2 linked regions of the Homo sapiens genome follow. The protein of the gene in region 2 purifies or fractionates together with the protein of the main gene of each other region. This does not show direct contact. Each region holds a gene or a part of one and is shown on either strand. Other genes may lie near its edges.

Region 1 (3,649 bases), on a different chromosome or scaffold from region 2:
CCCGTGGTCCCCTTCGCCAGGTACGAGGACTTCCTCAGCTGCGCCCAGCTGCTCACCAAGGACGAGGGGGAGGTCAGTGGCTCCTGGGGATAGCTCCTGGGAGATGGGCTGGCTGGGTGGCAGCCTGTAGACTCAGGACACAGACTCTGACTTTTCATGAATTTTCATGGCACATGGATCCTGTGGAGGCCTGCTGTGTTGGGGGTGTGGTGGGGGCCTGGAGCATCCTGCTTGGGTGGGGGAGGGGCCAGGGCATCCTGCTCAGGTCGGGGAGGGCTGGGGAATCCTGCTGTCTGGAGCCATACCTGTCTGCGGCCTTGGTCCCTGGGAGGGGTGGGTCCGGTGTGCCCAGCTCTGGCTGTCACACCAGTAGGTGCTCACACTCCCCACACCCGACTCAGGCCACTCAGGCCCGTCACAGGCTCAGAAACCAGGACATCTTTTATTTATATCTTGCTTCCTTCCCAAAAGAATTTGAGCTGGCTCCCAGGACAGATGAGCCAGCCCTCCCGTCCCCACCCGTGCAGGTGCTGGTCTGCAGCCCCAGGTGGCTCAGGGCCAGGGAAGGACTGTTTGCCTTCCCTGCGGCCATGTGGGAGATGAGGGCTCACTATCTGGCAAATATTTGTGTCTTGATAAGTGAGCTGAGTGCTGGCCCTGACATTCCTCCACGGGCCCTGTAGAGGCTCACCCCTCACACCAGCTCCTTGGAAGCAAGTTAGCTTCCCAGGAGGTCACAGCTGGGCCCTGGCCACTCCTTGAGGGGAGGTGGAGGTGGTGGAGCCCTCTGGTCTGTTGGGGCTGGGCTGCCGTAGCCCCCACCTCCCTTCTCTTTGCCCACCCCTCCTCGCAGTCAGAGAACAGTCAGGGCCCTCATTGCCGGTGTTTGAAATTCTGTTCTTCATTCCTAAGGGCACTCTGGAGTTGGCTAAACAAGTGAGCAACCTTCCTCAGGCAAATTACAACCTGCTCAGATACATCTGCAAGTAAGCGGCTTGGCAGGAGGGAACCACACTTTCCTGCACTGGCTCCACGCTCCCCCAACCCCACAGCGAGACACGCAACTCTTCCTTGTCAGAGGGGGGCCCGGGTCATTCCCCACCCTGCACAGCCTCAACCCAGCGTGGACGAAGCAGGGAGTGGAAAAGCACAGACCCTGAGTTCACGAAGCTTACAGTCCCATGGGAGCAGCTGGTTTTAAACAGACCTGGGTAGATAATTCCAGAAGGGACATACCCTCTGTCCCTCCTGGGTGCCTCTTGCCATCCTGTCCCCCCGGCATCTGCCCCTTGACCCCAACCCTTCATGTATCCCCATCCTAGACACTGAGAAGGGGAATGCAGGGGCGGCGCTGACTGGGGTCTGGGACTTCCCAGAATTTGTGCCCACTACAATTTGCAGAGTCTTGTCCTCCTTTCACACAAATAGCGGTGGGCCCTTGTCCCAGTGACTTTTACTTCTGATGGCCCTCTTGGGCCCCAGGGGAAGCCTTCCCTCATCGAGCCTGGCAGAGGCAGGCTACACCCAGTGGGCAAAAGCCCACAGGCAGCAGGGCTCAGCAGGGGTGTGGCGGTGCGTCCAGGCCGCACACAGGAGACTGGGCATCACAACTTGCTTCTTTGATGACTGCTGCTTCCTTACTTTGCAGGTTTCTGGATGAAGTTCAGGCATACTCAAATGTCAACAAGATGAGTGTCCAGAATCTGGCAACCGTTTTTGGACCTAACATTCTGCGGCCACAGGTAGAGGACCCAGTAACCATCATGGAAGGTAAGTGGGAGGTGTACCTGGTGGCCCTGGGTGCTGCCGGGGTCTGGGCTCATCTTGGTCCACGGCAAGTCCTTGGAACCATCCCAGCCCAGGGCCAGGCCAGCAGGAGGGGTGGCTCAGGTGGCACATCTCCATCTCTGGGGACTTGGCAGGAACTTCTGCAGACCTCACCCCCGACCCCCATGAGGTTCAGCTATAAGATAAAAAAGGAACTTTGCCCTGCGATGGGCAGCAGCAGGTCACTGGGTGCAATTAGAATAGCCAGGGGTTTCTGTGGATGGAAGAGGCTGGAGGGATGGGAGAGGTCAGCACTTTTGCCCTTGAACACAGACATGTTTGCTTTTCTTTTACAATTAAGCAATTGTCATAGGTTCCTGGATGTCAGCTTTGCAAACCCTGGAGAATTTCTCTATGATAAATAACAATAAGTGATTAAAAATAGCAGCAACAGCAGCCGCTTTCAGTAAGCTTCTACCAAGTGCTTTGTTTGTATCATCTCATTTCAGGCTTTACAACCAGCCTGTGCTGTGGTAATCGCCCCCACTTTACAGATGAGGAAACTGAGGCCAAGAGAGGCGAGGGGACTCACCAGAGGCCAGTCAGCCAGACTTAGCAAAGGGCACAGGTGTAGGCTGCCATAGAAAAGACAGCCCACCTCATAGGGCCCATGGAACACTGTCCCCAGTGGAGTATGCATGAGAGACGTGCTGCTCAGACAGGAAGCCCACAGCTGAGGCTGTTCTTGCCCTTATCCCATGTTGAGGGACGTGGCGGAGTGCTTTTGCTCAAGTCCGCACTTTGGTCAGCCCTGGCTGGGTCTCCCACCCCAGGGCCCCTTGAGGCCAGGAAAACACAAGCTCCTACCTGCCTGGTGGTACAGATGCTTGAGGGAGGAGGCCTGCCCTGCCTGCTTCATGGAGTTCCTGCTTCACCTAGGTTCTTGGCCTCAGAATTCCTTCCTTGACTTCTTCCAGGATTCCTAGTCAACTTCAGTGGGAGAGTCCACCCTGGCACTCAGCCCTCCCTCCTACCGGGGGACCTCCTAGCGTCGGGCCTTTGTGGTGAGGGTGGCAGGAGGGAATGAGGCAGCTGGATAGATGCCCTGGTCCTTCCTGCACTGCCCACCTCCGCTGCAGGCCCCCACCCCACCACCGTAGGAACTGAGTCCCCAGGACTGGGGGCTGCATCTCAGGGGCCTTGGCCTAGACACGGGGGATTGTGTGTGTGCGAGATTATATGTATGTGGGATTCTGGGGGGTGAGCAGGGTGCACTATGTGTGCAGTTGTGTATGGGGGAATTTGGGGAGGCTGCGGAGGGTGCATTGTGTGTGCAATTGTGTGTGGCGGATTTTGGGCAGTGGGTGGGGTTCATTGTGCGATTCTGTATGGGGGGATTTGGGGAGGCTGGGTAGGGGATTTGTGTGTTCACTTGTGTGTGTGTAGGGGCTTTGGGGAAACTGGGTAGAGTGCATTGTGTGTGTAATTTTATGTGTGTGGGATTTTCGGGAGTGGGCATTGTATGTGCGATTGTGTGTTGGGGGATTTGGGGAGGCTGGGTGGGTGCATTGTCCAGTTGTGTGTGTGTGTGGGACTTTGGGGGTGGATGGGGTGCATTGTACGTGTGATTGTGGGGGGTATTTTAGGGGGTGGGCGGGGTGCATTGTGTGTGCAATTGTATGTGTGTGCCCCCACACAGGAAAGATGGCTCTATTCCCTGTCCCAGAGCCCTATGCTCCCAGAGTGTGGACATTCAGGCATGGCAGTTGTCAGCAGCACAGAGGGGTGACGTGGGGCAGCCGAGAGAGTTCTGGCATCTCAGGTCCCAGGTTCCAGTTCCAACCTGCCACCTGCTCACCGTGCAGCCTTGGTGCCTGCTTCC
Region 2 (3,649 bases):
GGCTGGTCCCGAACTCCTGGGTTCAAGTGATCCTCCTACCTCAGCCTCCCAAAGTACTAGGATTGTAGGCGTGAGCCAGCGAAACTACGTGCCCAGCTTTTTATAGTAGTTAGAAGAAACCACTTTTCTAGTGTTTCTCTACAAAAAATCGGTCATGGCTGGGCACGGTGGCTGATGCCTGTAATCCCAGCACTTTGGGAGGCCGAGGCAGGTGGATCACGAGGTCAGGAGTTTGAGACCAGCCTGACCACATGGTGAAACCCCGTCTCTACTAAAAATACAAAAATTAGCTGGGCGTGGTGGCGCGCACCTGTAATCACAGCTATTCTGGAGGGTGAAGCAGGAGAATCCCTTGAACCTAGGAGGTGGAGGTCGCAGTGAGCCGAGATCACACCATTGCACTCCAGGTTAAGAAATACCATTAAAAATAATGACTGACTAGGCTGGGTGCGGTGGCTCATGCCTGTAATCCCAGCACTTTGGGAGGCCAAGGCGGGTGGATCACGAAGTCAGGAGTTCGAGACCAGCCTGGCAAACATGGCAAAACCCCTTCTCTACTAAAAATACAAAAATTAGCTGGGTGTGGTGGCACACACCTGTAATCGCAGCTACACAGGAGGGTGAGGCAGGAGAATCCCTTGAACCCAGGAGGTGGAGGTTGCAGTGAGCCACGATCATGCCATTGCACTCCAGCCTGGGTGACAGCGAGACTCCGTCTCAAAAAAAAAAAAAAAAAAAAAAGAAGGTCATTCTGGACCATGCTACAGATCTGCCTGGAACCCTCCCCCCGGCTCCGGTGCAGGAGGACAGGAAAGAGCTCAGGACCCAGGAACCAGACAAGGGAAGCCGGCCCCCGCCCCAGCCAGGATTGCTCCCTGCAACCCTGGGCTTCATGTTTGGGTTTGTAAATAGGGCCCCGAGTCCCAGTCTCACAGGTGACAGGATTCAGTCCAGGTCCTGGTGCCATCCCTACTGCCCCCTGCATCCTCCAAGGCTCTGCAGAAAGGGGAGTTGGCAGCAACGTGGCAGGTGGGCCAAGCAGAGAAGGGTGGAATCCTGCCCTTCCAGCCTGGGGCACCAGGACTGAGACAATGCCTTGGTCACAGATAGGGTCTATGGCTTGGAAAAGCAGGTAGGGGTGCCAGGCTGCACAGAGGTGAGTGCCTCAGCGGCCAGAGCCTGGTGTCCCCAGTCCTGCTCAGTGCCCCTTCCAGGGGGACAGGTTTGAGATGGAGGAGCTCACCCACCTGGAGGCCTGAGATGTCCATCTTCTCCCGGACGCTGAACTTCTGGCCCATGAGCCGCAGCTTGGGCACACAGTAAAGGATCATGCTGTTGAACTGCAAGAGGGATGGCACAGGTGAGGAACGAGAGCTGCCCGCAGGTCCCCCCAGGGGCCCCAGTGAGCTTCTCACATGGGATCCTTTTCATTTTTTTTTAATGTTATAAAGTGAAAAATATTTTTAAAAGATATGTGCAGTAATTTTAACTATGGTTACATCTTTGAGTGAGGAGACTCTAGTCGCTAGCTTTATTTTTGTTCATTTCTATTTTTAAATTTTTAAACCATGAACATGAGCTAATTGTATAATTTAAAAAAAAACCTTTTTTTATTTTTTTGAGATGGAGTCTTGCTCTCGTTGCCCAGTCTGAAGTGCAATGGCGCAATCTTGGCTCACTGCAAACTCCGTCTCCCGTGTTTAAGAGCTTCTCCTGCCTCAGCCTCCCGAGTAGCTGGAATTACAGGCGGGTGCTACCACGCCCAGCTAATTTTTGCATTTTTAGTAGAGATGGGGTTTCGCCATGTTGGCCAGGCTGGTCTCAAAGTCCTGACCTCAGGTGATCCGCCCACCTCAGCCTCCCAAAGTGCTGGGATTACAGGTATGAGCCACCACGTCCAGCCAAACCAAATCTTTTGAATGAGCTACTGATACATTCACCAACATGGATGAATCTCTCAAACCCACATGGTGAGCTAAAGGAGCCAGACTCATCTCATGGCATTGATGTGACATTTGGGAAAGGCAAAATTCTAGAAACAGAGAAGAGATCCATGGTTGCCAGGGCAGGCGAGCGCTTGCTCACAAAGGGGTGGGACAAGGGAACTGGGGGGGTGGGCGGGGGCAGTGATCAAATTGTAACTTGGCCAGGTGAGGTGGCTCACGCCTGTAATCCCAGCACTTTGGGTGGGTGGATCACCTGAGGTCAGGAGCTCGAGACCAGACTGATAAACATGGTGAAACCCCATCTCTACTAAAAATACAAAAATTAGCCGGGCGTGGTGGCGCACGCCTGTAATCCCAGCTACTCAGGAGGCTGAGGCAGGACAATTGCTTGAACCTGGGAGGTGGAGGTTACAGTGAGCCGAGATTGAGCCACTGTACTCCAGCCTGGGTGACAGAGCGAGACTCTGTCTTAAAAACAAAAACAAAAACAAACAAAAAAAACTTGTTCTGTAACTTGATTGTGGTCACAACTGTATTAGTCAAAACTCAGAACTGTAAAGCAAAAATGAGTTTTAGTTAACGTAATTTTTAAAAACTTAAAAAAAAACCTTTCAAAGAAATAATTGTTTATTCAAGGAGAATCAGAAGCTAGAGGAAAATGGAGGAGGAAAGAAGAACCACATCTGTTTCTACCGCGCCATGGCACCCGGGGGGGTCTCGAATTACACTTCCATCCCACCTTCCCCCTCCCTCCCGGCCAGGGTTTGGCTCAGGAATAGTTGAAACTGTGATTCACTGCTACAGTTCTCTGTGCTGTCCTGGTTGCTACAAGCTGAAGTCTGCTCAGTTCTGGGGACGAAAGAGGTATGGGCTACGAGGGATTAAAAAATGAGATATTTGCAGCAAATGGGGAAGAGCCACTGGCAAAAGTTTGGTGTCTGGATGTGGAGGAGGGAGGCTCCCTATGGCTGGGGGAGGGATGCTGAGGGTCTCAGAGGGAGCCACAGTCCCAGTAGGAGAGGCCACAGAAGAGCCATGTCCTTGGGCAGCCAGAGCCCTCCTGGCACTGCCCTGGGCTTGAGGCAAATGGCAAGGGAGGCTCTGCGGCTGGGCTGGCAGGGGCCAGGCTCACCAGGAAGAGGTGGCGGTCCTGGGGGGTGCCGTTCTTGGCTGACAGTTTCTGGATTTGGCCCTCCTTGATCAGTTCATTGGCCGGGTTGACAATGTCTTCTTCCCCACCCAGCTGCTCGTACACCTCCAAGAGCTTGTGCATTTTCTCCTGCAAGAGACATGGGACTCAGGCACCAAAGGTCTGTGAGAGTGGCTGGTGACCTAGAGATGCACGGAGTCCTTCCCTGCAACCGTGGCCCAGAATCCAGAGAGGGCAATGAGCTACTGACAAGGGTGGGAGGGAAAACAGAGTGATGTTTGAGTTGGGTATTGAAGGATGAATAGGAGTTCACCATGCAGAGCATAAAAACAACGATAAACAGGAACAGAGCTAACCATTGCTGTGAGCCATGTGCTGTTCTACATGATACATGTTTTAACTCACCTAGTGAGGTGAGTGCCATTGTTATCTTCATTTTACAGACAAGGAAACTGAGGCACAGAGCGGTCAGTTGAGTATCTGAGACCCAGACTCGGACAATCCATATGTCACCTTCCCCTGACCATGGTGACTGGTGGGGTGGTCACATGGG

What was found.
Region 1: the proteins of FGD3 (region 2) and ARHGAP22 purify together in Homo sapiens (affinity purification with western blotting; one study listed by BioGRID and IntAct). This does not show direct contact.

Annotation. Positions count from the first base shown.
Region 1 is NC_000010.11:48,451,425-48,455,073, reverse strand, and holds part of ARHGAP22 (rho GTPase-activating protein 22), read left to right. Parts: coding exon 1-72; intron 73-912; coding exon 913-986; intron 987-1,648; coding exon 1,649-1,770; intron 1,771-3,466; coding exon of another isoform or gene 3,467-3,649.
Region 2 is NC_000009.12:93,013,428-93,017,076, reverse strand, and holds part of FGD3 (FYVE, RhoGEF and PH domain-containing protein 3), read right to left. Parts: exon of another isoform or gene 3,226-3,649; coding exon 3,079-3,225; exon of another isoform or gene 2,583-3,078; intron 2,151-2,582; exon of another isoform or gene 2,133-2,150; intron 1,341-2,132; coding exon 1,248-1,340; intron 1-1,247. UniProt on the Homo sapiens protein: Promotes the formation of filopodia. May activate CDC42, a member of the Ras-like family of Rho- and Rac proteins, by exchanging bound GDP for free GTP. Plays a role in regulating the actin cytoskeleton and cell shape.